Regions from separate parts of the Homo sapiens genome. Here region 2 is linked to region 1. Evidence: fine-mapped expression QTL. A gene starts in region 1. The other region holds a variant in brackets. All regions are shown on one strand. Distances are between the middles of the regions.

Region 1 (8,322 bases):
TTCAACATGTTGGCCAGGCTGGTCTTGAACTCCTAACTTCAGGTGATCCATCCGCCTCAGCCACCCAAAGTGTTGGCATTATAGGCGCGAGCCACTGGGCCCGGCCGGAAGTGGCTTTTTACTTTTTCAAGTCACTCTACTAGTGAGGAATGGAAGGATGGGACTCACGCACTGAATCTCAGTCTGGTGTTCCAGCATGTCCTAAGGGCAACCTGTCTCTCCAGTGTCATCCCCATTTTTGGTCCTTGTTTTTCTCCTTTAAGTTCCTCCTCTCCAATAAAGGCCTGAGAGTTCTATACTACTCAGACACTGCCTAGAAATGCAGGGTTTGTAGGAATTCCTGGCCAACCCAGTATCAACAGAACCCCCAAGGGCCCAAGGGCCCAAGGACCCCAGGCTGGGAAACTCCCACGCTAAGGGTGGAGGTTTGGTTCTCCTACTCAGGGAGCCCTCTGAGTACATTTATTCCATCATGCATTCATTAATTCACACAAGATTTTCTGACTGCCTATGTGTGCCAGGCATGGTGCTGGGCATGGTAGAGCTACAGATAAGAACCAGCTGCTGCCCTTGATCACGTAGTCTGGTGGAGGAGACAGCTCTGAGGAAGAATGATGCTTATCTGACTCAGTGTCACTTAAACCTTGGCTCAGCGTCGCCGCTTTGAAACTTTCTCCTGCACACTCTTCCACCAATCTAAAGTAGTTCTCCAGCCACATGTGGTGGCACGCACCTGTAATCCCAGCTACTCAGGAGTCTGAGGCGGAGGATCTCTTGAACCGAAGAGTTCAAGGCTGCAGTAAGCTATGGTCTCGCCACTGCACTCCAGCCTGGGTGACAGAGTGAGACCTTGTCTTTAAAAAAAAAAAAAAAAGGCCGGGCGCGGTGGCTCATGCCTGTAATCCCGGCACTTTGGGAGGCCGAGGCGGGCGGATCACGAGGTCAGGAGATTGAGACCATCTTGGCTAACACGGTGAAACTCCGTCTCTACTAAAAATACTAAAAATTAGCTGGGCGCGGTGGCGGGCACCTGTAGTTCCAGCTACTCGGGAGGCTGAGGCAGGAGAATGGCATGAACCCGGGAAGTGGAGCTTGCAGTGAGCCGAGATAGCGCCACTGCAGTCCGCCCTGGGCAAAACAGCGAGACTCCGTCTCAAAAAAAAAAAAAATTATTTTTATTTTAATTTTGAAAAAATAGGGAATGCTTCATGAATTTGCAAGTCATCCTTGCACGGGGCCATGCTAATTTCTGTATCGTTCAAAAAAAAATGATTGCTTAATGTACAAATGTTCAGATGTTCTCTGCAGGGATTAGTGTAAGCCCATAGCTTAGTGCTACCTGGACGAGCTGGGCCCCTTTTTTTACCCCTCCCCAGCCCCACCTTCTCCTTCCCATTTGTTCATTAACACCTTCTCTGGCAAACATGAAAGACGGAAGGGTGGGGTAGGATTGTCAGTTTCATTTCCTTTATCAGATAAGTGACAATTTCTGTCTTGGATGTGAGTCCCAAGACAGATTATAGGAGCCATGTTAAAGAAGCTTCAAAGATTGTGGAAGAAACAAGACAACTTGTGTATTTTCAGTTTTTGTGTGTTTTCAGTCTCATAGCCATTGTAACATTTGTTCAAAGCCAGGTTTGGCCAGTTTCTAGCTGGATGACCTTCAACAAATTACCTAACCTTTCTGTGCTTCAGTTTCTTCTTTTTAGACTAACCATACTTACTTCATGGGCTTGACTTGTGTATTAAAAAAGGAAAAGTAAGCAAAGTTCCTAGACCAGAGCCTGGCATGCAGTGGCCACTCAACAGTGCAGTGGTTCTCAACCGCTGGGCCTGCTCCGTCTTCCCCTCTCCTAACTTCACCATGCTCAGGTCTGTCTCCTGTACGTTAGCTGCTGCTGCAACCTGTCACCCTCCAACTTGGGGTGTAACAAACTAATTTCCTAAGGTCTTAATCTTAGACTAATTTCCTAAGGTCTTTAGGGATTTGGGGAGGCTCCCTGCATTGCTGGGGAAACCAGGTGGCTGGTTTTGTAGTGGAGGGGAGAAAAAGGAGGTGGCAAAGCACACTGGTGACAAACAGATGGGAAGCTTATTTATCAGCACTTGATTGAGGAGGGTGGGCAGGAAAAGGCTGGGCCGTGCTGTCTGGCAATGACTTCCCTTCTCCTTTTTCCAATCCCTCTCACACATAGCCCTTAAAAAGATTAATACTGAATTACACAATAAATAAAATAATCCACGCCTGTAAATCCCAACACTTTGGGAGGTCGAGGCGGGCGGATCACCTGAGATCGGGAGTTCGAGACCAGCCTGACCAACATGGAGAAATCCTGTCTGTACTAAAAGTACAAAATTAGCCGGGCGTGGTGGCACATGCCTATAATCCCAGCTACTCGGGAGGCTGAGGCAGGAGAATTGCTTGAACCTGGGAGGTGGAGGTTGCAGTGAGCCGAGATCGCACCATTGGACACCAGCCTGGGTAACAAGAGCAAAACTCTGTCTCAAAAATAAATAAATAAATAAATAAATAAATAAATAGATAAAGTTACAATTTACAATTTCATTCTTCTTTGATTGGCCCTCTTCTCTCCCCCACCTAATTGCTGTTGTCCTTTTGGTCACACTGCCCTTTGTGACATCTCCTTCCTTTCAGGGCTGCCCAGACTGTAGCAGGCTGCAGTGGCTGGGGAGACCCTACTCATTCCTGTGCCCCTCCTAACCAGTCCTAGATAGGGCTAAAGAACGTCTATAAACCTTTTCAGAAGCTTCCAGTTGACACATTCTCTCTCTTCTCTGAAATCCTACAAGTGCTATCTCATGATTTACAAAGACCCAATACATGTGCTGTCTCATTCTGTCATTGCCAGTCTTAAGTCTTAAGCCCTTTGAGGCCTGATTCTACAGCCGAGACATCCTCTATTTCTCCACCATCTCTCTGTCTCATTCAGAGCACACAGTATGAATGAGGTCAATAAACACAGTGTTTTTTGTTTTGTTTTGTTTTGTTTTTGTTTTTTTTGAGACAGAGTCTTGCTCTGTTGCCCAGGCTGGAGTGCAATGGTGTGATCTCAGCTCACTGCAACCTCCGCCTCCCGGGTTCAAGTGATTCTCCTGCCTCAGCCTCCCGAATAGTTGCAATTACAGGCGCCCGCCACCACACCCAGCTAATTTTTGTATTTTTAGTAGAGACGGGGTTTCACCATGTTGGCCAGGCTGGTCTCGAACTCCTGACCTCAGGTGCTTCGCCCACATCGGCCTCCCAAAATGCTGGTATTACAGGCGTGAGCTACCGTGCCCAGCCCAATAAACACACTGGTTTTTTTTTTTTGTTTGCTTTGTTTTGAGACAGAGTCTTGCTCTGTCGCCCAGGCTGGAATGCAGTGGCGCTATCTCAGCTTACTGCAACCTCCGCCTCCCGGGTTCAAGCGATTCTCCTGCCTCAGCCTCCCGAGTAGCTGGGATTACAGGCACCCGCCACCACGCCCGGCTAATTTTTGTCTTTTTATTACTGATGGGGTTTCACCCTGTTGTCCAGGCTGGTGGAACTCCTGAGCTTAAGTGATGTGCCTGCCTCAGCCTCCCAAAGTGCTGAGTTTACAGGTATGATCCACTGCGCCTAAACATACTGTTGAGTGTAACCTCAAATAGGTCATTTAACCCTTCAGGGCTTTGTGTATCTGTAAAAGGCAGACAACAGTCCCTAACAGGCTATTGCAGATAATGGGCTTAGCACTATGAAGCAGCTGTTTTATGGGGCTCCAGGTTCACCTTAGGTTTGACAATTGAATTATGAAAGATAAAGGAGAAAGACTTGTCAGCCTCTCCGAGTAGATCCTTTGGCCGAAGGAGTGTCCATGTGGGGTGGTATCTCGGCCTGGTGGAGGGGGATGCGATGGTAGTGAGAATATTAGGGTATTCATATCTTTCCTCCCGAGTCAAACGTTGCCAGGCACGTTCCTTTCGCCCCTCCCACCCTCCATTCTGCATTAATTCCAAGTTTAATTCCAAATATTAGAGTGTGGTAGAAAAGGTCAAATAGAGCAGCCACGGATTAAGCAAACGCCCCTCCGCGTATGGTGGGGGCTGCAGCGCCCGTAGCTCCACGCTCCGCCCCGCCGCCGCTGATTGTCCCGCGCCTTGTGACGTCACACGCGGGTTTTTAAGGCCGAACCCTAGGCAGGCTCTGCAGAGGCAGCGGTTGGAGGCGCGGTGGGTGTCTGCGGGGGTCTCGCGGGGCGGCTGCGGTGTTTCACCGGGAAAGGCTCGAGGAGAGCGCGGCTCACGAGAGGTAAACGGACCCTGCAGACCGTGCTGAGGCGGTCCCGGTGCCGGGCCGCTGGAGCTGGGGTCGGCCATCGGAGGAGGGCGGGCGGGCAGGAGAGTGTCGCGGGGCGGTGGGGCGAGGGTCGCGGAGTAAGGAAGGGCACCGTGTCAACGGCTTGGGGCTGCGGAGGGCGGGTGGGAGCCGGACTCAATCTCCGGTCTCAGCGTCTGCACCCTAGCTCTTAGTTTGGGGGCACTGTCGACTTCCCCCGTCCCTCGGGGATCTTGCCTGGGGGATGGCGCCATAAGCTCTGAGAAGAGGCTCTAGAAGCCCACTGTCCATGGATCGAGCCCTCACCCCCCACTTGAGTGGCCCAGGACCTGGGAGTCTCTCTAGGTCCCATCGCCCCCCTCACGACCCCCCCAGGGAGTGGGGGAACACCTCTGTTATGCCTTAAAAAAAAAAAAAAAAAGGAAAGGAATTTTAAAAATGAAGGATGGGAGGGTGATTTAGGAAGGGATCAAGAAGTTGCAAATCTTGTGTGTATTATTAAACGTCTCCTTTTTCTCCCATGACCTTTTCTTGGTTCAGATAACCCAGCTGTGCTCCCTGGAACCTTCAATTTCAAGGCCTCCCTGCCTCTACTAGGCGCCTTAGCTCACTATGGGGAACCACTTGACTGAGATGGCGCCCACTGCCTCCTCCTTCTTGCCCCACTTCCAAGCCCTGCATGTCGTGGTCATTGGGCTGGACTCTGCTGGAAAGACCTCCCTCCTTTACCGCCTCAAGTTCAAGGAGTTTGTCCAGAGTGTCCCCACCAAAGGCTTCAACACCGAGAAGATCCGGGTGCCCCTCGGGGGATCGCGTGGCATCACCTTCCAAGTGTGGGACGTCGGGGGGCAGGAGAAGCTGCGACCACTGTGGCGCTCTTATACCCGCCGGACAGACGGTCTAGTGTTTGTGGTGGACGCTGCGGAGGCTGAGCGGCTGGAGGAAGCCAAGGTGGAGTTGCACCGAATCAGCCGGGCCTCGGACAACCAGGGCGTGCCAGTGCTGGTGCTGGCCAACAAGCAGGACCAGCCCGGGGCACTGAGCGCTGCTGAGGTGGAGAAGAGGCTGGCAGTCCGAGAGCTAGCAGCCGCCACTCTCACTCATGTGCAAGGCTGCAGCGCTGTGGACGGTCTGGGCCTGCAGCAGGGCCTTGAGCGCCTCTATGAGATGATCCTCAAGAGGAAGAAGGCAGCTCGGGGTGGCAAGAAGAGACGGTGACCCAAGCCCCCCCTCCCTTTCCTCCCACCTAGTAGGGGTCTGCACACTTGGACAGCAGGGTGGGACCAGCCTGTGACCTCTCAGTCAGACTGGGGTGCAGGACCTGTCCACCTCAATGAAGGAGAGAGGAGCATGGGGTGTCCCGTTTTGGTGCCACACTGGGGTGGGGATGGGAGATGGGATGTCTTTGCATATCTCTCTCATCCTCTCTGGAGAAGTGGGCGCTGCAGGACTGTGGAGACGTAAATGTAAACTGTGACTCTACCTCGACCCTGTTTCTTATTTTTCTTCTCTGGCTAAAAATTTTTAATTGGATGTGTTTGGGGGCGGGGGGATGGAAGTGACTTGGAGAATGTGTTTGGGATGAAATAACTATCTCCCCTTCCTCTGTCCCCCAACTGGGGAGTCTCCCCAGGCTGCTTTTCTAGGAATACCAGTCACATAGTTTTTATTTTTGTGTCTGTGAAAGTGCCAAGAACCCCTCCCCACATTTGTAGATCCATGACCCTTTTTATAAGCTGTGTGTGTCCTCTGTATTATTGTTATTAACTATTTTTTAGCATTTGCCTGTAAGTTATTAAAGACTGATAACTGTAGCTCTTACCTTGGTCTGGGGCATTTTCCTCTCCTTATCTTGCCCCAGAGACAATTCAAGATTTCTATATGGGGTTGTGGCGCAGGGGGAGGGAGATTTATCTTGAAGCTGAATTTGCAAAGCAAGCACTTATAAAAATTAGATTGTGTGTTACGGGATGGCTTGTGAAAATTATAGGGGGGAGTGGAAAACCCCTCAAGCTATTGCCTGATCTCTGTAGTTTTTTGGGTGGGGTCACTTCCTTTTTCTCTGATTTAACACCCCTCCCCTCATCCTCTGGGTCTTACTTGTCCCTTATATCAACTGCTCCTTGCAGATTTAACTTCAAATTTTGCTAGTCTGAGCTACTCCTAGGTTCTTGACCTTGGTGACACCTAAGTCTATATAGGTAAGTCCTCAAAGAGCCATTCTGTTCCCATCCTCCCCACTTCCCCAGTCTTAGGTTGGTTTGATTTTTTTCCTCCTTGTAAGATGTGGTGAGAGTGGAAAGTAATTCCTCCCTGGCCTTAAGTCACCTCTGTGTACTCAATCCTGCTGACTGGCTCACTGGCATGATGGCAGCGGCTGGTGCTAGGGAGGCCTGGGCTGGATTGAGCCAGCCTGGCCCTGGTGACTAAGCCATGAGTTTTCCAGCTCTGGGAATGGTAGCTCTTCTCACGAGAGGGGCAGAAGTAGTAGCTGTTTGTGCTTGGTGGCAGAGAGGACTGCTGGACATACACCCTCCAGACTCCAAGATAGAAGGGGGAAGACATAAGCCCCCAGTATTTGTGGTGATTGTAAGAATAAAATGCTAATATTACAAGGGCTTGAGTGCCCCTACTCACCAGCACCAGGGCCAGCTATGTCTGATAACAGAACCCTTAGATCCTCTTAATCTTCTGGGTGGGAGCAGTGAGTAAGAACTAAGCACAAGGCCGGGCACAGTGGCTCACGCCTGTAATCCCAGCACTTTGGGAGGCTGAGGCAGGAGGATGGCTTGGGCCCAGGAGTTCAAGACCAGCCTGGGCAACATAGGGAGACCATGTCTCTAAAAAAGAAAAAAAACAAGCACAATTCTTTCCAGTTGTCGAGCCCTCCAGCCACCCCCTGCCACCTTTTGTGCAAACACACAATCCCCAGAGCAGGTTCAGCGTTCACACCCTGCTTCTCCCCAATTCTGTCTCCTCTTCTCCGGAATCAGATGAAAGGACCTGGGGAGAAAGAGAAGGTGCCGGCAACCCCCACTTCTGGGGAAGGTTTCCTAAAGAACTTGCTTCTTCCTACCCAGCGCTGCCAGAAGCTCAGATTTGGTCCCCTCCCCATCCCTGTAGCTGGCAGGATTGGGGTGAGTGTGCATTGATCCGGAAGGGTGCCCAAGTGTGCGTCAGTGCTAGGGCCTGCTTGACAGAACTGCTGGGCTGGTTCTGCTGGGAACATGTGCTACCTGCCCCTCCCCCAGACACACCTGCGACTCCTCTCCCAGTCTTTTTGGGGCACAGTCCTATAGCCCAAGGACAGGTTGAGGCCCCAGTCCAGGCTGGAAAGGAACTGGCCAGAACTGACCCTCTGTCCTGCCAGGAGATCTTTCCTCCCCACCCCACCCAAATTCTGCTCTTTTGTCTTAAAATCTTCAATTATACATTTTCATTTCTTGTCACTTGGTGTACTTAGGTCTCCAGATTTGGGGGAAGAGGTGCAGAGGTGTTCCCCAATCCCTAGCAGAGGGGCCTCCAAGATGTCAGCTCCTGATTCTGGCTCTTCCAACCACACTCCTTCCCTACCTGCTTAAAACAGGTATCTTCTGCTTCCCCATGCCCAGCCCTGGGGGCGGTCAGGGATCATGGTCCACAGGAGGCCTTTGAATGTCCCAGGCTCTTCCCCAGTCCCTCTGGCCTGACTGTCCAGCTGGTGGCACTAAAGGAAGATGGGGGCTTGTGTCAGAGAGAGACGGAGAAGCCAACTGCTCTGCCAGAGTAGTGGGGAGAGGGGAACACTGGGGAATTCTGAGTAGAAAGCCACAAATTGTGGCCGGGTCAGAGTCAGGAGCTTTGGAATAATCCTCCTGCCTTGGCTCATCAAAGGGACTGGAGAGCTGGAAGGGAAGGGATCACTTCCTATCTGCAGGATGAGAGAGGGAGAGAGAACCTCTCACTCTCCAGTCCTGCCCAGAGATTCTGCATTTTGAACTCAGGGCAAGGGCAAGGAATGAGGG
Region 2 (8,322 bases), 130 kb after region 1:
GGAGAATCTAGGTGTTTCCCACTCCCCGGAAGATCTAATCTCCACTGGCCAGAATCCAGGGCCTGCTCTAGCCTCTCTCTGTACCATCTGGCCTGGGAGCCTTTCTCCTTTGCCCCATTCTCCAGACAAACACTTGTCCCCAACCCCAGCAAAAGTAGCAACCTAGAGCTGAGGTAGGAGGGAGGACATGCAATTGGGGTCTATGTGGGACAGCAGGGTCATGGGAACAACTGGGATCACAGAAACCAAAGACCAAAACCCTGTCTGAGGAAGTCCCAGGAGGGAGACCCTTGCCACTCAGTAGCCCACCTGACCCGCCCACAGGGGCAGGGAGACTGCTGCTGGAAGCAGGCCCAAAGTGCACAAGGGGCGCCTGTCCAGGTTATCAAGTACCCCCTGTCCATTATTTCTGGATCCTCACACAGTAATGCTGGGAAGGGGGAAGGGCAGGTATCATTAAGCCCATTTTTCAGAAGAGAAACAGTCAGGTGAACTGCCTTTTTTCAAATCTACATGAGGATTTAAGCGCCAGGGCCTGGCCCCAAACCAGTCAGCTCTGCTTCAAGACCAGAGCTCTTTCTACCCCCAGGTCTGTTCCCACATGGCAGCAAAGAGGACACAGGAGAACTAATGGGAGAAGTGGGGGCCTTTATTAAGGTCTGGCAGATGTGGTGGAGGTGGAAGTACAAACCCAGGCCTGGGCCTAGGAAAGGGCAGAAGAAAGGCAAAGGGTCCCTTGGAGCAGGAACCCATCCCTCTCTGCTTATACCCAGCACCCCTCATCCCAGGTTCCTTTCTTCAACCTCCGCCTGCCTCTGGGAACACAGAGCACCAAGAACTGACAAACCGGGACCCTCCAGGGCCACAGCGTGGGGCAGAGTCCAGGCTTCTGTCTCCCCGCAGTGGGAGATCTGGGGAGCTCAGTGAACCTCCTCACCCTCCTGCCAGTATGAAGTTGGGAAGCGCCTTCTCTGTCCCCCAGAACAGAACAAACTCTTGTTCTCTGTGGTTGGGGAAAAGGTGTGGGGGGCTTGGACCTAGGAAGAAGCTGAGCTGAATTCCTCCAGGGCCCAGGTGAAACCCCCAGGGGAGTTTCTGAGACTCTAGACTTGCCATTTCTCCACTTTTCCTTCCCAATGACTCCGGTGAGCAGCTCAGAGTCTGGGCTAGGGCAACTGGTAGGACAGTGGGGATCTGCCCCAGAGACATCTGTGGGTTTCAGATGAAGGTTTCCCCAACACCAGATTCATTTATATGTACACAGGGCAGCACCCACCTGCGGCAGGGGGAACAGCCGCTGGGGGCTAGTAAGAGTAGCCACCCTTGGGGCCAAATGGCTGGGCGGGGCCAGCCAGCTCTGGGAGGTAGGCGGGGCTCTCATCCAAGTGGGACAAAGGGACTGTGTCCTCCTCACTGACAGGCCGGTCAAACTCAGCCTTGAGAGCTGGACGCTGATTGTCCGGGAAGGCCAAAGAGAAGAGGGCCTCGGGCTCACACACAAACTTGTACACGTAACGCTCACCAGCCACCTATGGGGAGAGAGAAGGTCTGGTCAGCCTGGCTAGCCGCCCAGCCTTTGTATGGGGTAAGGTGGGGGAGTGGGGAATGTGGCCCTTCTACCAGTACAGGCAGATGCTCGGGGCATTTCTCTCCCATGCTGGTTCCTGAGAAGCTGACTCTCCCTTCACAGTTCTTACTCCTTTTTCATCTCAACTTCTCCATGCTTGGGCTTCTCAGTTACAGTGTTGCACTTTTTTGGGGGAGGAGAACCTTGGGATTCTCCACAATTTCTTGTCTCTCTGACTGATTCATTATCTGATCCTACAAAGTTGCTGAGAACTGCCCTGCTGACCCTCTCCCCAGTCAGCTTCTCACAGCCACTGCCCCCCACCACCTTGTCCCTAGACCCACAGCCCCCACCTTCTGCATGATGCCTTTCTCATAATAGTATCGGAGCGAGCGGCTCAGCTTGTCGTAATTCATGGCTGGCCGGTTCTTCTGGATGCCCCAGAGCCTGGCGACCTGGGAACAAAACAGTTTTGGGGTAGAGATGCTACCTTGGCAGAGGAAAAAATGGGGGTAAGGTCAGAAAGAGCACTTGAGATTCTTGGTGCAAAGTGCCAAGCTAGCTCTGCAACAAAGCATCAGCCCACAGACTTAGGCTTGGCAAGAATTCAGGTTAGGTAAAGCAAGAATCATGATGGAGGCACGTGCCACCATTTCCCAGGTTCTCCCACCTCCAGGCTGTAAACTTTGGAAAGGAGGGCTGGGAACATCCGAGAGGCCCACCTCCTCAGGCTCAATGAGCTTGAACTCCATTCCCCGGCCCGTCCAGGCAATGAAATGGGCATTTGTTGGGTCATCCAGCAAGGCCACCAGAAATTGCCACAGCTGCAGGGCACCCCGGCGCTGGTAGGGCGGCCCCTCTCGAAATGCACCGACCCCTTCCTGCTTGATGTCTCCTGGGGAACACGAAAATAGGAGGTGTGGGGTTTGTGTCTTTTGGTCCCCCAAGCAACCGCCTCCCACCCGAGGGATTTCTCGAAGGGGTCTCCCCAGGTACTTTTCTATGGGTCCCACCCTCTTGCAACAATGAAACGTGATGTGACTCCTGCAGGGACACAGCGTGATAAGACCTTGACCCTCCCATCAACAGTCACTTCTCTGACCTTCAAATTTCTCAGGGACAACGCAGACATCATCTGGGAATGGTCGCAGAGGTTTCTCATAGCCATAGCCTTGTGGAGGAAATTGGGGGTTGCTCAGATCTGGGGGTTCACCGATGAGACCCCAGAGAGTCCAGAGGGACTCCTGGCCAGGGAGACCCTCCCCCATGGCAGCGCTCCCTCCCCCAACATGGAGGGCTTGGCAGGGGAAGGGGGGCTGCCTTACCCATGGCCCCGTCACCTGGAGAGGGCCCAGAGAAGCCCTCTGTGTGGAGGTACATTGATGCGCACCCGGTGACATCTGTGGGGGAAGAAGGGGTGATGTGAGAAGTGGCTTGGGGTGGAGCTCGAGGGCAGGGGAGGAGGAAGTCCTATCCACATTCAAGAATTTCTTCCTTCCAGCCTGCTTCCTGGTGACTGTTCTTTGCCCAGGTTGCCTGCCAACCACAAAATCCCAGGGAAAGTTCACCCAGAGGGAGTGTGATGCTGGAACCCCTCCTCAACTTGAGGGCTGCGGCTGAGGCCATGGAAGGCAGCAGCGGGGGCTGGGCAAGCTGTTCTGAAGGGCCCAAGCTGCCAGGGAGCAGCTGTTTCCTGCGAGTTCAGGGGGAGGAGGGAGGGTGAGATGAACGTCCGGGGAAAGAGTTCGGTGTCCACGCCTAAGACTCCCTCAGAATGGACAAAAATGTCCGGTCAGCAGGTCAGGTTCCCAGCCCTGTGCACGCGCGCGTGTGTGTGTGTGTGTGTGTGTGTGTGACAGAAACAGAGCGTGCGCCTGCATGCACCTGGGGAAGAGGCAGTGGGCACTGGGCCTTGTTTTTTCAGGTCTAACAGAGCACATTCCACTTCGTTTCATTCCATTCCATAGGATAGGAACCTTCCCACTCCACATCGGGAAGGCGGCTGTGTGAAGCCACCCGTTCAAGTTCCAACCCCTTCCCGCCCTCCCCCCACTGCACTCCCACCTATGAATGAGAAGATGGTGAAACATGACACCTCCGGGAGGAGGCGGGAGGGTGGGCTCATTCATGCCTCCATTTTGTGAATGGAATTCCTGACTCCATTCAGGAGTAGCTGGGGGGAGGGGCAGGAGTTCAAGGGCATGTAACACAATCCCCTCCGGTCTACAGCCTTTGAAGGTCAGCGGCAAGAGTGCCTCCCTCCTCCTCTCCCCAGCTCACTGCCAAGCCTGGCTCAGGCTTATGCCCTGGATTTGAGGACAGGAGCACCATCCGGTTCTTAGTTGGACAGCCTGGGGGGTTGTGGTTCATCCCCCTGCCCTTGAACGGTTGTGGGCACCACAAAAAGGGAAATTCTAAAGTTCTAGCTAGCTCTGGGCCTACTCTAATAAACTCAGATCTAGGGCTACTAATGTAACAAAAGCCAGGAGGAAAGAAGAAAAGGCAGGGTTTTCTGGACCCTTCCTGGGACTGGCCCTCCTTCGGCCCTTGAGGCTTTGAACTATAGCTATTTATGAACACAGGTGAGTGCATCTCACTCCAGTCAACAGCCAGGTGGAACTAGAATTTAAAGAAGTCCCTACTTCCTCTGCCCTTGCCTCTGGCCAGGGCATACATCAATTGGGAGGCTCAAATATGTAAGCCACATATTAACCTGTGCTTCTACCAGCTTGATCAACATGGTGAAACCCCGTCTCTACTAAAAATACAAAAACTAGCTGGGCATGGTGATGGGCACCTGTAACCCCAGCTATTCGGGAGGCTGAAGCATGAGAATCGCTTGAACCCAGTGGCACTCCAGCCTGGGCGAGAGAGCAAGACTCCATCTCAAAACAAACAAACAGAGCAAGACTCTGTCTCAAAACAAACAAAACAAAACAAAACAAGAAAACCCTGCCCTCCTATTGAGAACTAGCAAGAACCATGAGCCTGGCTAGTTTCAAATTCATGTTTCTCTTCATTCAAATCCCTTTGTATTTTTAAGCCTCTGTGGGGATAGGGACCAGACACATCCTATTCATCTTTGTATTTCCCAACTCTGCACACTCGTGTTCCTGTCACAGTAGTTTGGTCTTAATAGGTAATTAAAACCTCAAACACCTGTTAAATAGAAATAAATGCCTTAACTTCCCTATTAAGTCACAAGCTACCTGAGGGCAGGATCTACATCCCCCTTTATTTTAATTTTACTTTTTTATAAATAGACACGAGGTCTCACTTTGTTGCCTAAGCTGGCCTTGAACTAATTCCTGGGCTCAAACGATCCTCCTGCCATGGCCTCCTAAAGTGCTGGGATTACAGATGACTCACCATGCCCCGGGGGCCCCCCTTATCTTTTAATCTGAATATAGGTTTGCTCATTGAAAAGTAATAATTTGTCCGGGTGAGGTGGCTCATGTCTATAATCACAGCACTTTGGGAGGCCGAGGCGATGGATCATATGAAGTCAGGAGTTCGAGACCATCCTGGCCAGCATGG[C/T]GAAACCCCATCTCTACTAAAAATACAAAAATTAGCCGGGCACGGTGGCTGGTGCCTGTAATCCCAGGTACTCGGGAGGCTGAGGCACAAGAATCGCTTGAACCCGGTAGGCAGAGGTTGCAGTGAGCAGAGATCGTGCCACTGCACTCTAGCCTGGGCCAGAGCAGGACCCCATTTCAAAAAAAAAAAGAAAAAGAAAGAAAAATAACATTCTTTTGAAATTATGAAGAAAAAAAGTGGGTGGGTGGGTTGGATGTATGAAATGGTAAACAGCAATGTAAAAAAACTCGGGAGACATTCTGGGCTTAACTGAACACTTGATCACATGCCACCCTGCCCCACCCCAGTCTCTTACCTGAGTCGTAGGCGAAGTCCGTCTGTTCCTGTTTGATCACCACCCCCGCCCCTGGGTACCTGTGCCCATTGACCCCACCCTGGTCCACGGCTGGCTGGCCCGCCTGTTCATACAGGGGATCATGGTATTCTTGCTTAAAGCTCTGCTGGGGATAGGGTGGGCAGGGCTCCGACAGCTGGTGTTGGTAGGGGGCTGGGAGGGGTTCCCGGCCCCCTCCCTGAGATGTGAAGGAGTGGCAAATGTCCAGGGGCTGCTGGAAGACGGAGCTGGATGTGGTTGGATGGAGAAGGAAGAGAAGAGAACTTTAAATTAATCCTTCCTCGAGCCTGTTACTCCTAGGCTTTTAGAGTGGGCTCCGGAATGGGGGGTAGGGGGTTGGGGTGTCAGTATTTCTCCCTTTCTATTCCACTGCCCCCTGCCTCTACCACCCCACAGCTCAAGTCTTTATGGAGAACACTCAGGAATTGAAAAAACACCTGGGCCCATGAGCAGTGGGTTTCCCTGTCTCCTTACCTATGTTCCCCGAGGTACCCATGGCCAGGGTGGGGCTGGGAGGTGCCAGAGGATCTCAGGAAATTCCGTTGCTCTGCCCGGGGAAAGGGCTGTAGGGGCGACTGTCCAAGGGCACCAGGGGCAGGGGACTTGATGGCGATTTGTCTGGGGGGGTCATAGGCACTGGAGTTGAGAAGGAGACAGGGGTGAGGGGGCAGAGAAGCTGGAAAGCATCTTTGAACCCTTCATTCCTAGGAAAGCGAGGTCACAGGGATTACAGGAGAAGGAAGGATAGAGGGGGCTGAGAAGGGAACGGCAGGAGCCACAGACTCAGCCCTAGCCAATTCTTTTCTTTTTCAGAGACAGTCTCCCTCTGTTGCCCAGGCTAGTCTTGAACCCCTGGGATTCATACAGGGGGGATTTGTTGCTCAGAGCAATGGTTTAGGTGGGACAGTGGGCCTCTTGGTGGAAACAGAATCTGCTCTGGCCTCAGTATATATTCCTGAGGCCCTCTGCTGCGTTTTCCGTCTATTCAGAGGAAATCCTTAGCTGTATTGCTTCCTTACAAGTGCTAGAAAATCCTTTCTGTTGTCTAACTTGCATCTCAGCTGCTGCCTCTGCTCATGGGTGCCCCCTGCCTCCCTCCTCTGGAACCCTTCTCCTACCCTTCACCAGGTCCAGGCTGGGGCTCACCTGGAGTAAAGGCACTGCTCGCCATGGTGGTAGGGGAGTGGCGGCTTCCTGCTGCAGGACAGGGCCGGGTCTGTGCGGGGACTCTGGGGCTCCTTCTTGATCCTGGTGGTGGGGCTGTGGAAAGCTACTGTGGGGGTGGAGGGGACAGAGCAAGGCCAGAGCCTGTCACACAAGAGGCAGGCAGGGCTTCTGATACCTTCTGAGCTTTGAGGACCAGCTGGGTGACTGGTACAGCCTCCTTCCCTCTCTGGGTATCAATTTTCTGAGACCCGCAGTGAGACAAGAACATTTTGGCTATTTACATTATGTCTAGTTTATACATCAGACTAGTGTCTGATTATTGACTAAATAAACCATCTAAAGTTCAACATTTAGGCTGGGCACGGTAGCTCACACCTGTAATCCCAGCACTTTGGGAGGCAGGAGTCCAAGACCAGCCTGGCCAACATGGTGAAACCCTGTCTCTACTAAAAATACAAAAAAAAATTAGCCGGGGATGGTGGCGGATGCCTGTAGTCCCAGCTACTCAGGAGGCTGGGGCAAGGGAATTGCTTGAACCCAGGAGGCGGGGATTGCAGTGAGCCGAGATCATGCCACTGCACTCCAGCCTGGGTGACAGAGCGAGACTCCGTCTCAAAAAGAAACAAAAAACAAAAACATTTAATGCAACCCCAGGCCCCAGAAAACACTTTCAAGGAGTGAGCACCTCCAACCTAGGGCCTGTAGTTTTCCTGAGTGCCCTGGAAAATTCCAGGGGAGTGACATGTTTTCTTATTTGAGGATATAAAGAATCTTTCTTGGCCGGGCGCGGTGGCTCACGCCTGTAATCCCAGCACTTTGGGAGGCCGAGGCGGGCGGATCACCTGAAGTCAGAAGTTCAAGACCAGCCTGACCAACATAGAGAAACCCCATCTCTACTAAAATACAAAAAAATTAGCCGGGCGTGGTGGCACATCCCTTTAATCCCAGCTACTCGGGAGGCTGAGGCAGGAGAATTGCTTGAACCTGGGAGGCAGCGGTTGCAGTGAGCCGAGATCACACCATTGCACTCCAGCCTGGGCAACAAGAGTGAAACTCTGTCTCTAAATAAATAAATAAAAGAATCTTTCTTTTTCTGGTTGAGGTTGGATATTGGCCCACTTGAATGTCAGCTGACTAACATTATACACATGCTCCTACTTATCTGTGAAGAACACTGGCCTTTCCTGTGGCCCCTGCGGGGTTCCCAAACTCTGGCCACGAGGCTGAGCAGCAAAGAGTTGGTTCCAAGCCGGTGTGAGATTCAGTTTTAACCGCAGTCCAGTCAAATGCCGTTTGTAACCAACTATTCTCTGCTGTTTTTGATTCTTTGTGCCCCATTGTTTCACTGGTGAAGACAGTTGACAGCAAAGTATCTGACATTAAAGCAGGGTTTGTTTTTTGGTTTTTGTTTTTTTTGAGATGGAGCCTCGCTCTGTCACCCAGGCTGGAGTGCAGTGGCTCAATCTTGCCTCACTGCAACCTCCGCCTCCCAGGTTCAAGCGATTCTCATGCCTCAGCCTCCTGAGTAGCTGGGATTACAGGTACACGCCACCATGCCCGGCTAATTTTTGTATTTTAGTAAAGACGGAATTTCATCATGTTGGCCAGGTTGGTCTCAAACTCCTGACCTCATGTGATCCACGCGCCTCAGCCTCCC

The links. PIP is the estimated chance that this variant, and not a neighbour inherited with it, causes the effect.
Region 2: its variant is fine-mapped to the expression of ARL4D in whole blood (INTERVAL, PIP above 0.99).

Annotation. Positions count from the first base shown.
Region 1 is chr17:43,394,803-43,403,124 of GRCh38, forward strand. It overlaps ARL4D (ARF like GTPase 4D), which reads left to right and starts at 4,191. Exons shown (of 2, transcript NM_001661.4): 1 at 4,191-4,291; 2 at 4,859-6,335. The coding sequence starts at 4,931. The coding sequence ends at 5,536. It also overlaps the pseudogene RNU6-1137P. RefSeq lists an enhancer at 4,315-4,818.
Region 2 is chr17:43,527,215-43,535,536 of GRCh38, forward strand. ETV4 (ETS variant transcription factor 4) reads right to left here. Exons shown (of 13, transcript NM_001079675.5): 6 at 6,645-6,771; 7 at 5,973-6,134; 8 at 5,460-5,725; 9 at 2,893-2,967; 10 at 2,670-2,738; 11 at 2,290-2,462; 12 at 1,921-2,022; 13 at 632-1,529. The coding sequence ends at 1,305. It also overlaps a transcript of DHX8 not described here. Among named protein-coding and RNA genes, the nearest start is that of ETV4, 15 kb to the right of the region's middle. RefSeq lists an enhancer at 1,381-1,922. The variant C/T (reference allele first, on the strand shown) is at 5,105.